Linked DNA regions of Homo sapiens. The protein of the gene in region 1 interacts with the protein of each later gene in a pairwise test. Each region holds a gene or a part of one and is shown on either strand. Other genes may lie near its edges. The genes, in order: TMCC3 and TEX28.

Region 1 (11,189 bases):
ATCTGAAATCAGAAATGCTCCTGTAAGCATTTCCTTTGAGCGTCATGTTGACGCTCAAAAAGTTTTGGATTTTGGCTTTTGGATTGAGATGCTCGGCCTATAGTAAAAGTGGTTAACATCTATTGATTTCTTATTGTGCACCCGGCATGGAGTTAAACATTTTATAGACATTACTGAATTTATTCCTCAAAACACCCCTATTATGTAGAAGTAGGAACTAAGGCTTAGAGTGATTACAGGATCCAAGATTACACTGGTAGCAAACAGCACTGGTACAAGATCTGTATTCTGGGGACTATCCTAATGCAAATGGTTCTGTAGGGAAAATAATATGGTCCTTGCATGCAGGATGGAACAGAAGTTGGTGAAGGTCATAAGTGACTAAGGTGGGGGATGATTGGGAGATATGGAAGAAACCAATTCCAGAGAAATGTCAGAGAAAGGTGCGGTGGTATTGCTAATAGGTTAGAGAGATGGGGGAGGGCAGGCACTCAAGATGACTAGCAGTTCTGATTAGTAGTGGCACCAACAAAATAGAAAAAAATTATTAACCTGACATATAGACAAATACAGCTTTTTCACCCAGTGAGAGAACATAAATTTAAAAAAATTTTTTTAAATAGCTAATATTTGAAAGCACACACCTTTTTTTTTTTTTTTTTTTTTTTTGAGAGGAAGTCTCACTCTTGTCCCCCAGGCTGGAGTGCAATGGCACGATCTCAGCTCTCTGCAATCTCCGCCTCCCGGGTTCAAGAGATTCTCCTGCCTCAGCCTTCCGAGTAGCTGGGATTACAGGCACCTGCCACCATGCCTGGTTAATTTTTGTATTTTTAGTAGAGACAGGGTTTCAACATGTTGGCCAGGTTGGTCTTGAACTCCTGACCTCAGGTGATCCACCTGCCTCGGCCTCCCAAAGTCCTGGGATTACAGGCGTGAGCCACCGTGCCTGGCTTTTTTTTTTTTTTTTAAAAAACAAATACTTTCTTATTTAAGACACACAATCACTCCCAGAAGAGTGGAGTATTACCTCTTTTACAGATGGGAAACTGGAGGCTCAGAAAGGCTATTTAGGACCTTGCCCCAGTGGTCACCCAGTTAAGAAGCTCGAAGAGCCAGAATACAACCCACGTAGGTCCAGAGCCCCAGCTGTCCACCACTATACTCAAGTGGCTGGAGAGGGCATTTTAGAACACTTAAAATGAAAACCAACTAAAAGAAAACCTAATTCACACATCATTAATAAAAGCCAGTTACTGTATAGAAAGCAGACGGCCTGTATTCTTAAAAAGATGATAGGCTTTAACTATCTAGGGCATGAAAAAAAAGTAGGAGTCTAATTATGGATGCTCTTTCTTCTAAAGTAGAGAGATATGTGCATCAAGTTAACAAGCACCATTTCTGAGTTTTACAAAGATGAAGTTTTAAAATGTGAATGATCCTGACTTGTCAGCTTAGCAACAATCACAGAATTCATTACTTACATTTTCACTAAGGGGGGAGGGGTTATCTAGGTCAGTCCACCTAGATGTAAAAATAGATTTCTGCAATGTTGAAAGAGTACACTGCCTCATTATTATTCCAGTCTCAAAGGCTGAAATAAGCCCAGCAAGACAGACCATGTAGTTTCCCTGTTATCTCAACAGGTATTGATTTTGAATTTAAAAAATGACCATTCAGTAACTAAGAACTTCATCTCATGGAGTCTTTGCCCACTTCTAGGCAGAAACTCCATATCCCTGAAAGATTAGTCGACTCTTCCCATGACCCCCTAGTTCTCATTGGCATTTTTAGGGGAGCTAATTCACCAAATGAGTTCATAAAAGGGTTCTTTTTAAATCCTATACTAGTTTCCTCCCAAGGAGATGGTGACATCAAGAAATTAGCACTCGATGTCTTCCTCTCGCATCACATACGTTCTGGGTGTCAGGAAAACATATCTTTACAGCTGCATCCAAGTGAGTTCCACAATACAGGAGCTACGATCATTTAAATGGATGAATACTTTCTGCACAGTAAAATTGTTGCTTTCCCTTCATTACAACAGACTTATTGTAGCCTCAGGACAGACTTGAAATTACATCAACCCTGCTTGAGAAAAGTTATTATTATGAGTTTACAAAAATTTCACTAGTTCTACCTATTCCTCGCTGTCTCAACAATAAAAAACCTAAAAGCAGATAGCTGAGAAGTTTCAACTGGGACCTCAAGAAGTCCAGCATCACTGTAGTAGAATTTGTGATTACGGTCTGCTGAAGTTCTAGCCCTTCTCTGATTTCCTCTCTTCACTAGATCTGACTGGCCCAATGTGCTAATTTACGATAATCCGCACATATAATGTCTAACTCAGTTTTAATACACAGCTTATTTAAAAATCGGGTATCTCCATGCTAACAATACAAGGCAGCAGGTACAATAACATTGTCAGTAGAATTGTTTTATTTATTTATTTATTTATTTATTTATTTATTTAAAGACAGAGTCTCGCTCTGTGCCCAGGCTGACGCGATCTCGGTTCACTGCAACCTCCGCCTCCCGGGTTCAAGTGATTCTCCGCCTCACCCTCCCGAGTAGCTGGGATTACAGGCGCCCACCACCACGCCCGGCTAATTTTTGTATTTTTAGTAGAGACAGGGTTTCACCATCTCGGCCAGGCTGGTCTTGAACTCCTGACCTGGTGATCCACCTATCTCGGCCTCTCAAAGTGGTGGGATTACAGGCATGAGCCACCGCCCCCGGCCCGTCAGCAGAATTTTAAAGAAAATCAAGAAATCACATAAGGTTTTGACCTTTTAATAGAAAAGACTGGCGTAGACAGGCAACAGTGGCAGATGCGGCAGAAACACTCTGCAGTTACCTTACACAATTGCTTTACCACATTCCACCTAAGCAGTTGAGGCACAAACTTTATCACCACCATTTTACAGGTTATGAAGAGTGAGTTTTGTAAAGTTGCATGAGTTTTGCCAAACCACTTAAATGAGTTGACAATGAGCCATCCATCCCGCTAAGATTACTAATCTTGTTTACACAAAGAAGATCACAGTTGTGACAAGAAAAAACAAGCTTTCACATTTCAAGTCTGCAATATTAACTTTACAGAATCCTCTCAATTACAAATGCATTCGAAGATGATCTCCTTTTCTTCATAGTTCTGTTAACTAGCATTACAGCTATCCAAGAAGAAATGTCTACCTGTGGGTAAGCACATTTCTTCAATGTTTATTCCAAATGGAGTTTCTGGTTATTTTCACAGCAAACTGTTACGAAACTTATACACAAAGTGCAAAAACAAGAGAATTGTAAGATTGAGATGAGTGCATGAGGTATTATTCCACCAAATATATTCAATCTGTAAAAACTCAAATCATCCTTCCAAAATGATTAACAGATGCTAAAGGAAAAAGGGAAAGCGGGCAAATAAACCAGAGACTCATTGCTTCACTTCTGGGGCAATCGATTACTACTTCAAATTATGAGTGAAGACCAAAATCCTGCACAAAGGGCCGCGACACAACCCCGTCACTATTGCTACTATTTCCATCCAGTTGGTCTCTCGATCTTGGAAGTGGCAGGCCAGAATCTGAGCCCGGCTCTCCCTCCGTGAACTTTACACAGAGGCTGACACCCAAATCCCCAGTTCTCGGACAAGCGAGTAAGTAGTTGGCGGAGCAAAGAACAACTCCAGGTGCCTCCTGCCAGAACAGATGCCAGCGTGGAGGAGGTGCTTTGTTAAATGGCACTTCAATCAGCCCTGGGGAGAACGGGTTACAGAGCCTCACATCCAGCCTCGACGATTCAACAGCCCGGGAGGGCAAAGGTATTCACCGGGGAGGGCGAAGGCTTCCTCTCCCAGGACAGACCCGCGCTTGGGCTGCGGCCTCCGTCTTTATTTTGAAGCCCTACAGGGCTCGTCTCTGCAGCAGGCTCAGAATGAGCTATTTTCGCCCACAGCCAAAATCAGCAACAGCAAATTACACTGCAAACAATGGCGAGGGCGCCTGCTCGGCTCGGCTCGAAACTCCGGAGAGGCAGCGCAAAGATTCTGACTTTTCACTTGGGCAGAGCCCGTCCGCCGCCTCCCCGCGCTCCGGCTGCGCACCGCGCTCGGGTTCCGGCCACACGCCCCGAGGACAGGGAGACAGGGCGGCCGCCGGGACGTTCGGCGGGGAGGGCACCGTCACACCCAGGGCGAGACCCCGGAGACCTGGAGACGCGGGGCCGCGGGTGGCCGGGTGGCGGGATTCCCTCGCGGAGCGGCGGGCGCTCCCTGGCGGGGAGGACAGCAGAGCGCGGGCCGTCGGGGAACCGGGCGTCCCGCATAGCGCGCGGGGACCTGGGCGCCGTGAGGGGCAGGCGGACCTGGGATCCCAGAACCGCAGCCTGGGCTCCGACGCCCCCGACGCCCACCCTTTTAGCTCGGAGGATCGGGGAGGCACGGACCTCCGGCGGCAGCGGAGGGCGGCGGCGAAACGCCGGGGGCGCGTGGGTTAGCACTGAGCCGCCGCCCCAGCCCGCCTCGCCCCCGGGCCCGCGCGCACCCGCCGCCCCCCAGCCCGCTGCGCTCACCCGGCTCTTGCAGCGGTGGTGCCGGCCGGGGTACGAGTAGGTCCGGTCCACGGTGAGCGCCGTGTCGCTGCCCGGCATCTCCGCGCTCCGGCCGCGAACTTTCCCGTCTTCTGGGGCTGCCGCGCCGCGAGCCACCGGCTGTGCTCGGGATCACCCTGGGAGCCGCGGGCGAGGGGGCGGCGCGGCTGCTGCAGCTGTTGCCTCTGGTGCCAACACCCGCGCGGCCGCCCTGCGCCGCCGCCGCCGCGGGGTGGGGGAGGCGGGGCAGGAGGCGAGAGTCTCCTCCCCCTTCCCTTCTCCCCGCCTCTCCCGCGCCCCGCAGCCGCCTGGACCCCCCACCCACCCCCGACCCGGGAGGCAATGTCTTCGCCTCCCTCCCTGGCTGAAAGTTGATTCCATCCCCTCCCACACAGCCCTCTTTCTCCCCAAAAGATAAGCGACATCCACACTACACTATCTGTTGACTTATTTTATATATAAAAGGTGACTGTTACTGCAAGAAGTTGACACTTGCCTTAAATGCCTCTTTTTATGTTATTCTCCATTCAACAGGCACTTACTGGGCAGCTGCCATGTACCAGACGCTGGACTAGAGACCAGAGATTTAAAGTAAAAAAATGAAATAAAATAAAAACTCCCCCCGACCATGATTGCCCTGAGCATAGAGCATACTTCCACTTAAACTAAGATCCTACTGTGTTGTGTATTTTAATTTTGCATATCTGGCTCACCTTTATGTTTCTTTCTTTTTTTTTTTTTTTTGAGACTGAGTCTCGCTCTGTCACCCAGGCTGGAGTGCAGTGGCGCAATCTCGGCTCACTGCAAGCTCCGCCTCCCGGGTTCACGCCATTCTCCTGCCTCAGCCTCCCAAGTAGCTGGGACTACAGGCGCCTGCCACCACACCCAGCTAAATTTTTTTGTATTTTTAGTAGAGACGGGATTTCACCATGTTAGCCAGGATGGTCTCGATCTCCCGACCTCGTGATCCACCTGCCCTAGCCTCCCAAAGTGCTGGGATTACAGGCGTGAGCCACTGTGCCCAGCTTACCTTTATGTTTTAAGCTACTTGGAAGTCAGGATATCTTTTCATTTTAGTATTCCCCATTCCCAGTCATCAGTCCCTGCCCACAAGGAATTTGGAGTTTAGAAGAGGAAGGACCATTGGTGAACAATTTAAATATCAGTAACCCCAAACAAAATTCAAAACACCTGTTCTGGCTCTGTAGGGTGTACAGTGGGAGACTGGGCTGAAATATTTAAAGTGCAGCTGTTCCAGAGAGGACCTGGAGCCCAGTGTGACCAGTCCAGGGGGAGGGAAGGATTTCCCTCATAGGGTTCAAAGGGGACGGTAGAGCAGGCTGAAGAAAACTTTGGAGCCCCTAAAATCAGAGGTACATTTGGGAAAACCTCAAGTCATCAGTTTTGGGGAGTGTCCTCAGGAACAGGAAGACATGATGGAAAAGAAGGCAGAGACCATGCAGAATCTTCGTTCAAGGGTAAGAAGTTCAGCCTTATTCTGTGGGAACTGGGTAGCTGTTGGAAATTCTTGAACAGGGAAATGATAGCATGGGAATGGAAGTTTAAGGAGAAGGTATATCTGACATCAGGGTGAAGCAGCGATTGAAGATGGGCAAAACACACTGGCTTCTTAGAAGGCCACTGTAAAGACAGAATAGCCTAATTATCCTTCAGAAGGAGACTAAGTAAATAAATGATGGTACATCATCCAATAGAATATTAGGTAACTGGAATAGAAATGAGGCAGCCCTCTATGAATAGCTTTGGAAGCAAATCTAACATACATGGTTCAGTGGAAAAAAAGCAATGTGCAGGATAATATATATGGCATTCCACCATTTATGTAAAAACAATATATGTTATGTGCTTCTACATGCACGACATATATCTGGGAGGATAAATAAGAAACTAGGGAAACAGACAAGAAATTGATGCCAAGAGAGGGGAACCAGGTAGCTAGAAGGCAGAGATGGAGAGAGATCTAATTTTCACTGTGTATACTTTTGAAACTTGAATGTTTATACTGTGGGCATATATTAACTATTCAGAAAGTAAAATTTTTTAAAAAATGTTTTTTAGAGATAGGGTATCTGTTGCCCAGGCTGGGGTGCAGTGGCACAATCATAGCTCACTGCAGCCTCAAATTCTTGGTCTCAAGGGATCCTCCCACTTCAGTTTCCCAAGTAGCTAGAACTACAGGTGTGTGCCACCATTTCTGGCTAATTTTAAAAATATATTTTTTTGTAGAGAAAGGGTTAAAACTAACTTAAGAAGAAATTGAAAGTCCCATGTAGTCCTTAAGCCATTCAAAAAATTAAATCAACACTTTTAAAAATACCCATCTACCACTACCCCAACACACAACTATACTAGACCCAGAGAGTTTTTCAGGTAAGTTCTTTGAAAGAAGAGAAATACCAAACGCTGGGGTGTGTGTGTGTGTGTGTGTGTGTGTGTGTGTGTGTTGGAGGGAGATTTTAGCTAGGGTGGCTAGAGAAGTCCTCCATGATAAGGTGACCTTGAGCAGAGACTTGGGAAATGAGGAAGCCAGAAGTATAGACATTGAAAATTTCCAGCAGACAAACAGAAAGTCAAGGGCCCTGAACATTTCGGGAGTGTTCAAGGAAGAGCAAGGAGGCCAGTGTTCACTGGAAAGAGATGAGGTCAGAGACATTTCAGAGGGCCAGATCATATATGGACTTTCATTCTATTTTAAGAACTTTAATTTTAGGCAGGGCGTGGTGGCTCACGCCTGTAATCCCAGCACTTCAGGAGGCTGAGGTGGGCCGATCACCTGAGGTCAGCAGTTCAAGATCAGCCTGACCAACATGGAGAAAATCTGTTTCTACCAAAAATACAAAATTAGCCGGACATGGTGGCGCATGCCTGTAATCCCAGCTACTCAGGAGTCTGAGACAGGAGAATCGCTTGAACTCAGGAGGCAGAGGTTGTAGTGAGCCAAGATCATGCCATTGCACTCCAGCCTGGGCAACAAAAGCAAAACTCTGACTCAAAGAAAAAAAAAAAAGAAAAGAAAGAACTTTAATTTTGGGGAATATGGGAAGATTTGGAAATTTTTGAGCAAAGGAGTGGCATGATCTACCTTTTCACTTGGATGAAAATAAAATTGATCTCTACCTCACAGCATAAACAAAAACCAATACCAGATAAAGGAAAAATAAAGAAAAAAAATTAGCTGGACATGGTGGCTTGCACCTGTAATCCCAGCTGTTCAGGAGGCTGAAGCAAGAGGTTCACTTGAGGCCAGGAATTCAGCCTGGGCAACAGAGCAAGACCTGTCTCTAAAAAAATTAAAAATTAAAAAAAAAAAACAGATTAAAGACTTAAAGTGGAAAAAACACAACTTAAAATTGTCAGAAGAAAATGAAAGAATATCATTATTATCATCTCAAGTAAAAAAAAAAACAAGACACAAAAAGCATAAACCACAAAGGTTTGACATTAAAAAAATTAAACTTCTGCTTATGAAAATAAACAATAAAGTAAAAAAATAAGCCACAGACCAAACTCCAGCTAAAAAAAAAAATCAATATGGACAAATTTCACAAACAATACTGAGAAACAAAAAAAGCAAGCCACAAAAAATTACTTGCAGTAAGATTCATGTAGGCTGTGTGGTAGCTCATGTCTATAATCCCAGCACTTTAGGAGGCTGAGGTGGGAGGATCACTTGAGCCCAGGAGTTCGAGACCAGCCTGGGCAATATAGTGAGACCTTGTCTCCACAAAAAAAAAAAAAAAAAGATTCATGTAAAGTTTTTGTTTGGTTGGTTTTTTTGTTTGTTTGTTTTTGGTTTTGAGACAGAGTCTCACTCTGTCGCCCAGGCTGGAGTGCAGTGGCACGATCACAGCTCACTACAACCTCTGGCTCCCAAGTTAAAGTGATTCTCATGCCTCGGCCTCCTGAGTATCTGGATTGCAGGTGTGCACCACCATGCCCGGCTAATTTTTGTGTTTTTAGTAGACATGGGGTTTCACCATGTTGGCCAGGCTGGTCTTGAACTCCTTGCCTCAAGTTCAAGTGATCCACCCGCCTCACCCTCCCAAAGTGCTGGATTGCAGGCGTGAGCCACCACGCCCAGCCTTCCTGTAAAGTTTAAGAAAAGCAAGAGGATAATAAACACAAATTTCAGGACAGTATCTCTGGTGGGGAGATGAAGAAGGCTTCAATAGAAAAGGGGTACACAATTATAAATATATAATGCTCTTTAACAAATGACTGTTGGTACACTGGATGTACATTCATTCATACATACACACAATAGTGAAGAATAATTTAAAATTTTAAAGGTAACAGAGTCTCAAAGGAACAGATATGGTGATATCCTTAATTCTGGAATTCAAATCACCAGTTAGGGGTACCTTCTCAAATAAATAAACATAATAGCACTTTACGTGTGAATAAACTCAGAGAGGCCCTGACAAACCAGGGTTGGGCTTTGCTTGGGGGTACCAACAGGCATCTACTTTCCATTTCTATTACTGTCTTGATGTTTCTTAGAATTCCATCCTGGAATGCTGACCCTCAATGAGAAGGATAAATTAAAACTTTATTAGGCTCATTTAAATGTCAATTAACAAAGGATGTTCTTTTTTAGATCATTTAAATTTATTTCATAAGCTAGTTGCCCAAAAGCTGCTCTGCTGGGCACTCATACAAAATTATTTTTTAAAAATATACAAATTAAATAGCAGAAGAGCAAGCTCCCCAGAACAGAAAGAAAACAAGCAGTGCTGATCACCATCTGGGTCTCCTTTTGGGAGGCAGAACCCAAGGGGAAAATAGACCACATCCCCTCCTTTGGACGCAATGCCAATGCCTAGGGTTTTGTCAGCCCTGGAGAGAGAGAGAGAGGGAGAGCGCAGGTGCAAATTCCTCCTGTCAATGTAAGAATTCTGTGCTTTTGATACCTCCAAGAGCCTCTCTCTGCAGAAAGTATGGAAAATATCGCACTGTTAAAATAACAAATGCAGTCAGAACAATAAGAAATACAAAGGTTCATACCTAAGGTGTGAAATAAGAATTTACTTGCAAACTATAAGGAAGGAGCACAACAAGACAGCAGATGCTAAAAGCACCAAAGAAGAGACCAGGTCATTTGAGCTGTAATAGTTTAAAGTTTGGAGTGAAAGGCCTATGGAAAGAGGTAGGACTACACTTGACTTTTGTAGTGCGTGTTTGTTGTTTCAGCCTGCCCAGGATCCCACCCCTTATTCTGAAGACAGTACCTAGGTTTTCTATTGGGACCTACCCTACTCCTACTTTTAATCCAAATGGCTTAGATAAGGTGGACCATTCCCATCCTTGGATCTAGAGAGTGGCATGTCATCCAGCCTTGGCCAGTCAGAGTCACTGTGGCTTGTGCAGGGATGGGCACATGAGCTAATCAGAGCAGATGAGAGTCATCCCCAGACTTTTGTCAGAACTGCTGGGAAAGCCTATGCCCTTCCAGTGGGCATTGCTAAGCTGGTACAATGCAAGCCTGATGCTGTAGTGGACATCCTTCCACCATATAAAGACAGCCTCCCTGGGAAAGCAGAGCCATGAAACGGAGAAAGACTTCTTACTAAATCCTTAGAGCACTAGATCCAGCATTTTCCATCTGCTATCGCTGCATGACAAACCACCTTAAAATGCTTTGGCTTGGCCAGGTGCAGTGGCTCACGCCTGTAATCCCAGCACTTTGTGAGGCAGAGGTGAGTGGATCACCTGAGGTCAGGAGTTCGAGACCAGCCTGACCAACATGGTGAAACCCCATCTCTACTAAAAATACAAAAATTAGCTGGGAGTGGTAATGGGCACCTGTAATCCCAGCTACTCAGGAGGCTGAGGCAGGAGAATTGCTTGAACCCGGGAGGCGGAGGTTGCAGTGAGCCAAGATCACGCCACTGTACTCTAGCCTGGATGACAGAGCGAGACTCCATCTCAAAAAAAAAAAAAAAAAAGGTGTTGGCTTACAACAATAACTACCTCTCATTAGCTCATGATTCTGCAATCTGGGCAGGCCTCCAAGGGAGGTGAGGTGGCTTTTCTCTGTTCCATGTGGCACTGGGGGGGGGGGGGTAGGGTGTCCAAGATGGCTTCATTCATATGAGTGACATTATTATATATATATATACATTGGTTTTCACCCATGGTTCCTGGCTTATAATTACCAATGCCCCTGTAATAGTCTCTTGTCATGATTTTGGGGCACTTTAGATCCCAGAAGCCAGCCTCAGAAGCCTTATCCTACCCTTGTTCCAGCTGCTCTTTTCTCTCCTGAAGGAAGGAATCTTCCCCCGCCTTTCTGTCATGCAGCTGGCCATGAAGAAATTCTCTGACCTACCTTGTCTGACTGTAGGACATAAGGTTCATTTTAGAAGGGGTCCTGCTCCATACCCTGGAGGAAAGAATGCTGCACAGAGAAGCCAAGAAGAATCTGAACAGACAGGCCTTGCTGGGTCTCGCCACTCAGTCTCTTAGTACTAGATCATATACCCTTTTGTCCAGTCACATTTCTACATGGTTGTCAATCATGCCCACCCAGTGACGTCTCCATAAAAGGCCGAAGAGTACAGGGTTCAGGGGGCTTCTGGATAGCT
Region 2 (11,049 bases), on another chromosome or scaffold:
CATTTTTTTTTTTTTTGAGACGGAGTCTCGCCCTGTCGCCCAAGCTGGAGTGCAGTGGCTCGAACTTAGCTCGTTGCAACCTCTGCCTCCTGGCTTCAAGCGATTCTCCTGCCTCAGCCTCCTGAATAGCTGGGATTACAGGCATCCGCCACCACACCTGGCTAATTTTTTGTATTTTTAGTAGAGACGGGTTTTCACCATGTTGGCCAGGTTGGTCTCGAACTCCTGACCTCAGGTGATCTGCCCACCTCGGCCTCCCAAAGTGTTGGGATTACAGGTGTGAGCCACCATGCCAGGCGGTGGTGGGCACCTGTAATCCCAGCTAATGGGAATCTGAGGCAGGAGAATCACTTGAATCCGGGAAGCGGAGGTTGCAGTGAGCTGAGATGGCGCCACTGTACTCCAGCCTGGGCGACAGAGCAAGACTCCGTCTAAAAAAAAAAAAAAAGTGGCTGGGCACAGTGGCACACGCTCCTGTAATCCCAGCACTTTGGGAGGCCAAGGTGGGTGGATCACCTGAGGTCAGGAGTTCCTGACCAGCCTAACATGGAGACACCCCGTTTCTACTAAATACAAAAAAATTAGCTGGGTGTAGTGGCACATACCTGTACTCCCAGCTACTTGGGAGGCTGAGACAGGAGAATCGCTTGTACCTGGGAGGTCGAGGTTGCGGTGAGCCAAGATCGAGCCATTGCACTCCAGCCTGGGCAACAAGAGCAAAACTCTGTCTCAAGAAAAAAAATTTAACAGGCCACCTAATTGCGATTAAAAAAAAACCAAAACCCTGAATCTGTTTAGATTCCCACTTGCAGGGTATGTGACATCACCTTCTGCCACATTCTCGCCAGCCCTGGACATTGTTAGGCTTTTTAATTTTTGGCGTTCTGGTGGATGAGAAAATAGTATTTAATTGTTGCTTTTCGCTTACTATTCCCGGATCACCTTGCAATTACATGTTTTATTATACGTTTACTGTCTTTTGTTTTTCGTCGTCTGAGATGTCCGTGGCTACCCTTTAATGTCTTTATATTGGGTTATTTGCTCTTAGTTTACTGATTTGCAGTTCTTTATATATTGTGTTGATTAGCCCTTTATCTATCAGATATGTTTCAAGCCTTTTTTTTTCTTGTTTGCTTTTATTTATTTATTTTTTGAGATGGGGTCTCAGTCTGCCACCCTGGCTGGAGGGCAGTGGTGCGATCATGGCAGCCTCGACATCCCCGGGATCAAGCGATCCTCCCGTCTCAGCGTCCTGGGTAGCTGGGACTACAGGTGTGCACCACCACTCCAGGATAATTGTTGTATTAATTTTTTTTTTAATAGAGACGGGGTTTCGCCATGTTGCCCAGGCTGGTCTTGACCTCCTGAGCTCAAGAGATCCACCCACCTTGGCTTCCAAAGTGCTGGGATTACAGGCATGAGCCAGCACACCCAGCCCTTGTTTTTTTTTCTCCCCCTTTCTTTCTTTCTTTTTTGTTTTTGTTTTGATTAATCAAGTCCCATTTTTTTCTCCTCTTGGTTATTTGGATGTTATGTACATATGTAGCTTCTTTTCTAGTGATTACTTTTTTTTTTTTTTTTGAGACAATCTCACTCTTGTCAGTCAGGCTGGAGTGCAGTGGCGCAGTCTCGGCTCACTGCAACCTCCGTCTCCCCGGCTCAAGCAATTCTCCTGCCTCAGCCTCCCCAGTAGCTGGGATTACAGGTGTGTGCCACCATGCCCGGCTAATTTTTGTATTTTTAGTAGGGACAGTGTTTCGCAGTGTTGACCATGATGGTCTCAAACTCCTGACCTCAAGTGATCCACCCGCCTTGGCTTCCCAAAGTGCTGGGATTACAGCTGTGAGCCACCACGCCCGGCCCGGCCCCCCCCCCCCGCTCTTTTTTTTTTGAGACAAGGTCTCACTCTGTCACCCAGGTTGGAGGGCAGTAGCACAGTCACAGGTCACTGCAGCCTCTACTTGCTGGGCACAAGTAATCCTCCTGCCTCAGCATCCTGAGTAGCTGGGACCACAGGTGCACACCACTGCCCTGGCAAGACTTGCTTTTTAAACAGTTGTTGAATTCTTACATTTGTCAGTGGTGTACTGAACTCCTTCATGTCTAAAAATGTCTTTAGTCTAACCCCACAGTTGACAGTTGGGGTGTAGAATTTTAGGCTGGGAAATCATTTTTCCCTCAGAATTTCGAAAGCAGCACTTCATTGTCTTTTTTTTTTTTTTTTTTTTTTTTTTTTTGGGACAGAGTCTTGCTCTGTCGCCCAGGCTGGAGTACAGGGGAGTGATCCTCGGCTCACTGCAACCTCTTGGGTTCAAGCGATTCTCTTGCCTCAGCCTCCCGAGTAGCTGGGATTACAGGCGCCCACCACAATGCTGGCTAATTTTTGTATTTTTAGTAGAGACAGAGTTTCCTCATGTTGGCCAGCCTGGTCTCAAACTCTTGACTTCAAGTGATCCGCCTGCCTGGGCTTCCCAGAGTGCTGAGATTACAGGTGTGAGCCACCGTGCCCGGCCAGCACTTCATTGTCTTCTAGTTCCCCATGCTGTTGCTGAAGTCTGAAGCCATTCTGACTTCTGATTCTTTGAATGTGACCTATTTTTTTCTCTCTGACAGTTATTCTCTCAGTGTATCGAAGATATCAGTCAACTATCTTCTGGATTGCATTGATGCTATTGAGAAGGCAGCCTGCAGTCTAAAAGTCATGGTTTTAAAGGTAATCAGCTTTTTTTCCTCTGGCTGCTTTTAACATCTTGTGTCGGCCGCGGGCGGTGGCTCATGCTTGTAATCCCAGCACTTTGGGAGGCCGAGGTGGGCGGATCATTTGAGGTCAGGAGTTCCAGACCAGCCTGGCCAACATGGTGAAACACTGTCTCTACTAAAAATACAAAAATTAGCTGGGCATGGTGGCGGGCGCCTGTAGTACCAGCTACTTGGGAGGCTGACGCAGGAGAATCGCTTGAACCCGGGAGGCAGAGGTTGCAGTGAGCCGAGATCACGCCACTGTACTCCAGCCTGGGCGACAAGAGCGAAACACTGTTTCAAAAAAAAAAAAAAAAAAAAAAATCTCGTGTCTAGGTGTGGACCTATTTCTGTCTTCCCTGCTTAGGATTTATTGGGCTTCTTGAATTTGTGAATTTGTGTCTTTCTTCAGTTCTGGAAAGTTCTTAGGGAGTTATCTCTTAAAATGTTGCTGCTGTGGCCGGTCGTAGTGGCTCATGCCTGTAATCCCAGCACTTTGGGAGGCCGAGGTGGGTGGGTCACCTGATGTTGAGAGTTCGAGAACAGTCTTGCCAACATGATGAAACCCCATCTCTACTAAAAATACAAAAGAATTAGCTAGCTGTGATGGCACGCGCCTGTAGTCCCAGCTACTCGGGAGGCTGAGGCACGAGAAGTGCTTGAACCCGGGCAGCAGAGGTCGGCCGTGAGCCGAGATTGTGCCACGGCACTCCGCCTAGGCAACAGAGTGTGACTCCATTTCAATTTAAAAAAAAAAGAAGAAAAATATGTATATATTGCTGCTGCTTCATTCTGTCTGTCTTCTCTCTCTGGTGTGACAATTGGATTTTTGTTAGACCTACTCATGCTACCTTCCATGTCTTCTATTTTTCAAGTTTTCTATTTTTTTGTGCCTCTGTGCTGCATTCTGGATACTTTTTTTTCTTTCTTTCTTTTCTCTTTCTCTCTCTCTCTCTCTCTCTCTCTCTCTCTTTCTTTCTTGGGATGGAGTTTTGCTCTTGTTGCCCAGGTTGGAGTGCAGTGGCGTGATCTCGGCTCACTGCAACCTCTGCCTCCTGGGTTCAAGCCATTCTCCTGCCTCAGCCTCCCAAGTAGCTGGGATTACAGGTGCCCACCACCATGCCCAGTTAATTTTTTGTATTTTTTAGTAGAGACAGGGTTTCACCATGTTGGTCAGGTTAGCCTCAAACTCCTGACGTCAGGTGATCCACCCGCCTTGGCCTCCCAAAATGCTGGGATTACAGGCGTGTGAGCCACCGCGCCCGGCCTGGATACTTTCTTTAGCTCCTCTGTACAATTTACCAACAGTCTCTCCAGCCATATCAAATCTGCCATTAAATCCATCAATTGAACATATTATTATTTATTATTTATTTATTTTTTGAGACGGAGTCTCACTCTACCACCCAGGCTGGAGTGCAGTGGCACGATCTCAGCTCACTGCAACTTCTGCACCCCGGGTTCAAGCGGTTCTCCTGCCTCAGCCTCCCGAGTAGCTGGGACTACAGGCGTGTGCCACCACGCCTGGCTAATTTTGTATTTCTAGTAGAGATGGGGTTTCTCTGTGTTGGTCAGGCTGGTCTTGAACTCCCGACCTCAGGTGATCCGCCCGCCTCGGCCTCCCAAAGTGCTGGAAGTACAGGTGTGAACCACTGTGCCAGGCATTTTTTTTTTTTTTTTTGTATTTTGTATAGACGGGGTTTCACCATGTTGGCCAGACTGGTCTTGACCTCCTGACCTCCGCCCGCCTCGGCCTCCCAAAGTGCTGGGATTACAGGCATGAGCCACCACACCTGGCCTATATTGAACATTTAAATAGTTTGAAAACTGTGAAATCTGGCATATGTATATAAAGGTGCAGAAAACATTGATGTATGTTTTAAGAAGTAACGATAAGGTGAACACACATTTAACCACTACTCAGGCCAGGCACCCCAGCCTCCACAGTCACCCCAGTCATAATCCCCTTCTCCCGCTCTAGTGGGAACCACCATCCTGGGGTTTCTGTTGCCAACATCCATGCTGCTCTTTAGCTTTCCTGCCTGTGTAGTCATCCCTACACAATATTGTTTAGTTTTGCCTGCTCTTGGAATTTATGTAAATGGAACCATATATAGTATGGATTTTCTGTCTGGTTTCTTTTGTTCAACATTATGCTTGTGAAATGCATTCATGTTTTTCAAGGCTGTAGTTCATTCTCATTGCTGTACAGTAGTATGTTGTTGCATATATTACAGTTTACTTACACTTTCTGGGCAGGTGGTTTGTTGCTAGTTGTTGGATATTGAGAACATCAGTGTACTTGCCTCCTGGGAATATCGCCTATGAATGCAGTTGCTGGATCATTTGGTAGGTATATCTTCAACTTTGTGATACTGTCAAGTGGTTTTCTAAGGTGGCTGTAGTACAAATTTGCTTCCCGCCAGTAATGATTGAGAGTTCCTGTTGCGCTATATCCTTGCCAACTCTTATTGTTGTTAGTCTGTCTGAGTTTGACCAATCTACTGGGTACATAGTGGTATCACTTTGCATTTTAAAAATTGAGGTATAGGCCAGATGCAGTGGCTCACACCGGTAATCCCAGCACTCTTTGGGAGGCCGAGGCGGGAGGATCACTTGAGGTCAGGAGTTGGAAACCAGCCTGGTCAACATGGTGAAACCCTGTCTCTACTAATAATACACGAATTAGCTGGGTGTGGTGATGCACACCTGTAATCCCAGCTACTCGGGAGGCTGAGCCATGAGAATTGCTTAAACCCGGGAGGCGAAGGTTGTAGTGAGCCGAGATTGCACCACTGCACTCCAGCCTGGGTGACAGAGTGAGACTCCGTCTCAAAAAACAAAAAAGTAGAAACGGAACAGAGGCTGCACCTGAGCTGCCCCCCACCTCCCTCTCCTAGCTCCTTGCTCTGGTGGGCTGGGTTCCAGCTATGCTGCTCTTGCCATCTTTATTTTAGAGGTAAGAAAACTGAGCCTCAGAGCAGTTTATTAACTTGCTCAAGGTCTCAGAGTGGTAGAGCCAGGATTTGAACTGGGCTCTTCGTCAAAGGCAATGTTAATCCCCTCACCATGTGAGAGACTCATTCTTTTGTGTTACAGTAGAATTTTCTGCCGTAGACTGTCAGCTGTATGAGATCAAGGAATGTATCTGGCTTCTGTACCACGTGGTAGGCACTCAGAGAAAGTATGTGTTGAATGAATGATTGGATGAATGAATGAACCTGTTAGGAGGCAAATCTCTCTGCCTAACCCTTCCTGTCTCCCTGGGAGTAGCAATACAGCAAGCTGTAAGAGTTGACGGAAATAAGCTTATTCCATACTTTACAAGAACAGTTCTTTATAAATGAGACCCACAATTGGTAATTTTTGGAAGAGAAAATAGGAGTGCAGTGCAAAAACAGGCAGATGTAGAAGGGAGTCTGGCCACCTGTGGGTCTTAGTGAGGCACACATGTAGAGCAAGGAGTCAGACGCTGAAAAGGAGGGGAGAGGGGCCCTGAAGATGAGCATCACCTCCTCAGTCTGTGTCGGGCCCATCTTGAATGCACAAATCTTGCGTGTGTAAGTATCCATGCATATGTGGAAGTGTTTTATGGAGTCATAACGTGTCCAATTCTCCCACACTTTGCGGCTCACAGAGCACCGTATTGTGATTTCTTGTTTCCCAACGTAGGCGGAACACACCAGGAGCCCCAGCGCAACCCTCCCCTCCAATGTGCCTTCATGCCGGTCCCTGTCATCCAGCGAAGACGGCCCCAGTGGCCCTTCCAGCCTCGCAGATGGAGGCCTAGCCCACAACTTACAGGATAGTGTCAGGCACCGCATCCTCTACCTCTCAGAGCAGCTGAGAGTGGAGAAGGCCAGTCGGGATGGCAACACTGTGAGCTACCTCAAGCTGGTATCCAAAGCAGACCGGCACCAGGTGCCGCACATCCAGCAGGCCTTTGAGAAGGTGAACCAGCGCGCCTCTGCCACCATCGCCCAGATCGAGCACAGGCTCCACCAGTGTCACCAGCAGCTCCAGGAGCTGGAGGAAGGCTGCAGGCCCGAGGGCTTACTGCTGATGGCAGAAAGCGACCCAGCCAACTGCGAGCCACCCAGTGAGAAGGCCCTGCTTTCAGAGCCCCCCGAGCCAGGTGGGGAAGACGGGCCGGTCAACCTGCCTCATGCCAGCAGGCCCTTCATCTTGGAGAGTCGCTTCCAGAGCTTACAGCAGGGGACGTGCTTAGAGACAGAGGATGTGGCCCAGCAACAAAACCTGCTGTTGCAGAAGGTAAAGGCAGAGCTGGAAGAAGCCAAGAGGTTCCACATCAGCCTCCAGGAGTCCTATCACAGCCTAAAGGAGAGGTCTCTGACTGACCTGCAGCTGTTGCTGGAGTCCCTTCAGGAGGAGAAGTGTAGGTGAGGCCTTGGCTCTGGGGACTGGAAGCAGAGGAGGAACCGCTCCCAGGAGCCACCTATGGGAGGGTGAAAGGGAGCCAGGACAGGAGCCTGGAGAGCCAGGGTGAGGGGCCAGTTGGAAGAGCAGGTCCATGCTTCTTTTAGCGACTGGGCCCTGCAGTGGGGCGAGCCAGCCCTCTCCCTGCAGTCCCACACCTGCCTTGACCCTTGCTAGCGAAAATGCTCCAGCTTGGCAGCCCCTGCCGGGTGGTTGCAGCGGCATAGCGGCTGGCCCTGACCCTGTGGTGGCAGGGGACAACATGGGGGTGGCAAGAGTCCGGTAGACACCTGGCACTAGTTAGGGAGGTGGCGTCCTTTGGTCCCAGTCGGCTGGGAAGGTGGGAGTCAGGACCGGAGTCGCCTCGCCAGCTCTGGTCTCTTCACATGTGCTCCTAGCTGAGCTGGGGCACAGGCCGGGTCTCAGATACTTATTTCAAAAATGACTGCCTTCTGGTGAATGCTTTCTCCGCACCGTGCAGTAGCTCGATTTTCTTTTTCTTTTTTTTCTTTTGAGATGGAGTCTCACTCTGTCGCCAGACTGGAGTGCAGTGGCACGATCTCGGCCCACTGCAACCTCCACCTCCCGGGTTCAAGCGATTCTCCTGCCTCAGCCTCCCGAGTAGCTGGGAATACAGGCGTGCACCAGCACATCCGGCTATTTTTTGTATTTTTAGTACAGGCGGGGTTTCACCATGTTGACCAGGATGGTCTCAATCTATTGACCTCGTGATCCGCCTGCCTCAGCCTCCCAGAGTGCCGGGATTACTGGTGTGAGCCACCTCACCCTGCCCTAGCTCGATTTTCTTTCCCTCTAAGATAAGGCTAGGGCCTACCAATTGGAGGAAAAAAAAAAAAAAAAAAAAAAAGGCAAACCCAATCTCTCAACGGATTCTCTCCATTCCTATTGGGACCGTTCTCTGGGTTTCCATGGGCCCTCAGGGGGTGCCACATTCTGTCCCCCTCGCTGCAGTCTGTGGCTAATTAACGCCAGTCCCTCCAGCGTCCTGGCTAGGGAGGCAGCGATTCCCTTAGGTGAGCCAAGATTCTCAGCATTTGCATGAAAAGAAGAACTCCGCAGTCCTTTTAGTGCCTGATGCAGGGGAAGCGGCGTGTGGGAATCATCCTCTTTAGTTTCCCCAGGGAAATCTTGCCAGCGTTTACATGGCCTAAGAATCTGTTAAAGGACAATCAAAGAATATTACAGGGCAACCACTGTCAATGAGATGACTAGTCAGAGTCACAGGCGTCTCTTGCAGATTATTTTCATAGGACATGGCAACCAAATCTAAAATCTTGGGAGCATCAAAGACCCTTTTGTGAAAATCACACTTACCCGGTCAGCTTTCTATTAAGCAACAGCAGAACTTGGTGGCAGTTACAAACTTCCCCGTATGTTTCCAAGCCACAGGGGCCAATGAGAATGCTGTGCTCAGGTAAACTCTTAACCCCTCTCAAATCCGAGTCTTTCGCCCGCTCTTGATACAGCGGTGACTACCGGGGAGCAGGGCAATACCTCTGTCTCTCCCCCTCTCAGACTTTTGCTGCAAATTCTAGAAGCCTGCACTTCTGACCCGGTACCCCCCATTGGACTGTGACATGGGATGTCTGGTTGTTTGCTGCAGCAGCGAGCCTACCCTTACTAATGTTCATCGTGAGCAGAAAAGCAGGTCTACAGGGCCCAAGCAGGTCTACAGGAGGAGAAAGGGCTGCTGATGATTTTTCACTGTTGTCACGGGCTCGTAACTGAGCTGGGGCACCAGGTTAAGCAGCCTTGTTCTTTGGCCCTCAGACGCCTACTTTATGGTTGGGGAAGCAGAGTCTCACGGAGGCACAAGCAGGCTACGTGGCTGCTAAGTGCGGACCTGAGAGCATTTCACCACACCCTGGCTGTGTGGCTAAGTTAGATGCAGGGGACACAGGAGTTCATGGCATTTTAAAAACATATACTTCCGTAAAATCTTCTTCAAAACTTTTACATGATCTGGACACAGAAGTGTTTCAACCAGCCAGGCTCCCTGTGACTGTTGCGTCCCCTCTGGTGCATCACAAACTGAGAATCCATACTGCAAGTCCTGTGCTGTTTATCACAGTTAAATCCGTTTGCTTTCAGGAGGGCTGTTGTGGTTTTTATCATTATGGTTTCTTTTTAATTTGGTCTCGGCATGTCTCTACTGAGAGTGGCCATAGCCGAGATACCCAGTTTCTAGGAGATCCCTGACCCGTGGGAAAGTTAGGTTCGGATGTGTGTGTCAGGGGAGCCACAGTGAGGAGGCAGACGAAAATGCATGAAACAGCAGAAATGGGCTGGGCGTGGGGGCTCACGCCTGTAATCCTAGCACTTTGGGAGGTTGAGGTGGGCAGACTGCTTGAGCTCAGGAGTTTGAGACCAGCCTGGGCAACATAGTGAGACCCGGTATCTACAAAAACATCAAAAAATTAGCTGGGCGTGATGGCGCGTGCCTGTAGTCACAGCTACTCAGGAGGCTGAGCGGGAGCGGGGATCCCTTGAGCCCGGGAGGTTGAGGCTGCAGTGAGTCATGATTGCACCACTGCACTCCATTCTGGGTGACAGAGCAAGACCCTGTGTCAAAAAAAAAAAAAAAAAAAAAGAAATGTATGACTCAGATCGAAGAGATGTTAGGTGTGCTGATGGGAGGCAGAGGGGAAGTCTGGAGGCAGCAGGGAGCTGATTGAGCTCATCAGCTGTGCAACAGCGAAGCCCAGAACGGAAGGGCGGGGAAGCTTCCGGGGCTGTGCCTGTATTAAGGTCACAGGGTGTGAAGTGATCCCACAGGCTTTCCTGCGGGGGTTGTGGATTGGCTGGTTTAAAGAAAACATGCACGAGGAGGAAACTGATTTACATGACTCTGGTGTTGAGCATTAGGTCTTATCGTGGTCAGCAGCCGTGGGATGTGTTGGGTTTTGGGTCAGTGAGGCGAGGACCACGTGGGCTATGTCGCAAACAATCACATGACAGGGAGGGAGGGGTGTTATCTAGGGCAAAGGTGACAGGGTACAACTGCTAAAGTTGGATGCTGAGGCAGCAACTGTATTAAACGCATTTATGACAAGGGCTTACTTAAAAAAATTGATGTAGAATTCACATAATTTCACGTAATGTGAAATTAACCATTTGGAAGCATGTAATTCAGTGCATTAAGTACATCTGCAGTGTGGTTCAACCATCACCTCTGTCCGGTTGTCTAACATTCTCATCACCCCAGAAGGAGACCTCCAGACTCACTACACGGTCACTCCTAGCCTCGGCTCCAGGCGTTCCCTAATCTGCTTTCTGTCTCCGTGGGTTTGCCTCTTCTGGACTTTTCATATAAATGGGACCATACGATATGTGGGCTTTTGTGTCTAGCTCCTTTCACTGTTTTCAAGGTTCACTAATGTTGTAGCACGTATCAGTACTTCATTCTCTTGACGGCTGACTAATATTCCAGTGCATGGGTAGACCACATTTTGTTTATCTGTCCATCAGTGGATGGAGATTTGAGTTGTTTCCACCTTTTGGCTATTGTGAGAAGCCCTGCGCTGAACACTCAGATACATGCCAGTTGTTTGAACACCAGTTTTCAATTCTTTGGGGTCTATAATCAGGAGTAGAATTGCTGGACCCCGTGGTGACTCCAGGTGTAGCGTTTAGAGGAGTCTTCCCACAGCAGCCGCGCAGCTCCATCTTCCCACCAGCAATGCAGAAGGCTTCCAGTTGCCTCACATCCTTGCCAACATTTGTTGTTATCCTTTTTTTTTTTTTCCAACAGATGTAACTGTGAAGTGGTATCTCATTATGAGGGCTGGCTTTCTTTTTTATTTTTCCTGAGTCTTTGGATAGGCAAAAGTTCTTTCTTTCTTTCTTTCTTTC

Evidence for each region.
Region 2: the proteins of TMCC3 (region 1) and TEX28 interact in binary tests that used the Homo sapiens proteins (3 or more experiments, as listed by UniProt).

The regions. Positions count from the first base shown.
Region 1 is NC_000012.12:94,645,787-94,656,975, forward strand, and holds the start of TMCC3 (transmembrane and coiled-coil domain protein 3), read right to left. Parts: upstream 4,772-11,189; 5' UTR 4,645-4,771; coding exon 4,567-4,644; intron 3,818-4,566; exon of another isoform or gene 652-3,817; intron 1-651.
Region 2 is NC_000023.11:154,283,770-154,294,818, reverse strand, and holds part of TEX28 (testis-specific protein TEX28), read left to right. Parts: intron 1-2,613; coding exon of another isoform or gene 2,614-2,701; coding exon 2,702-2,713; intron 2,714-4,998; exon of another isoform or gene 4,999-5,067; coding exon of another isoform or gene 5,068-5,088; intron 5,089-6,411; coding exon 6,412-7,139; intron 7,140-11,049.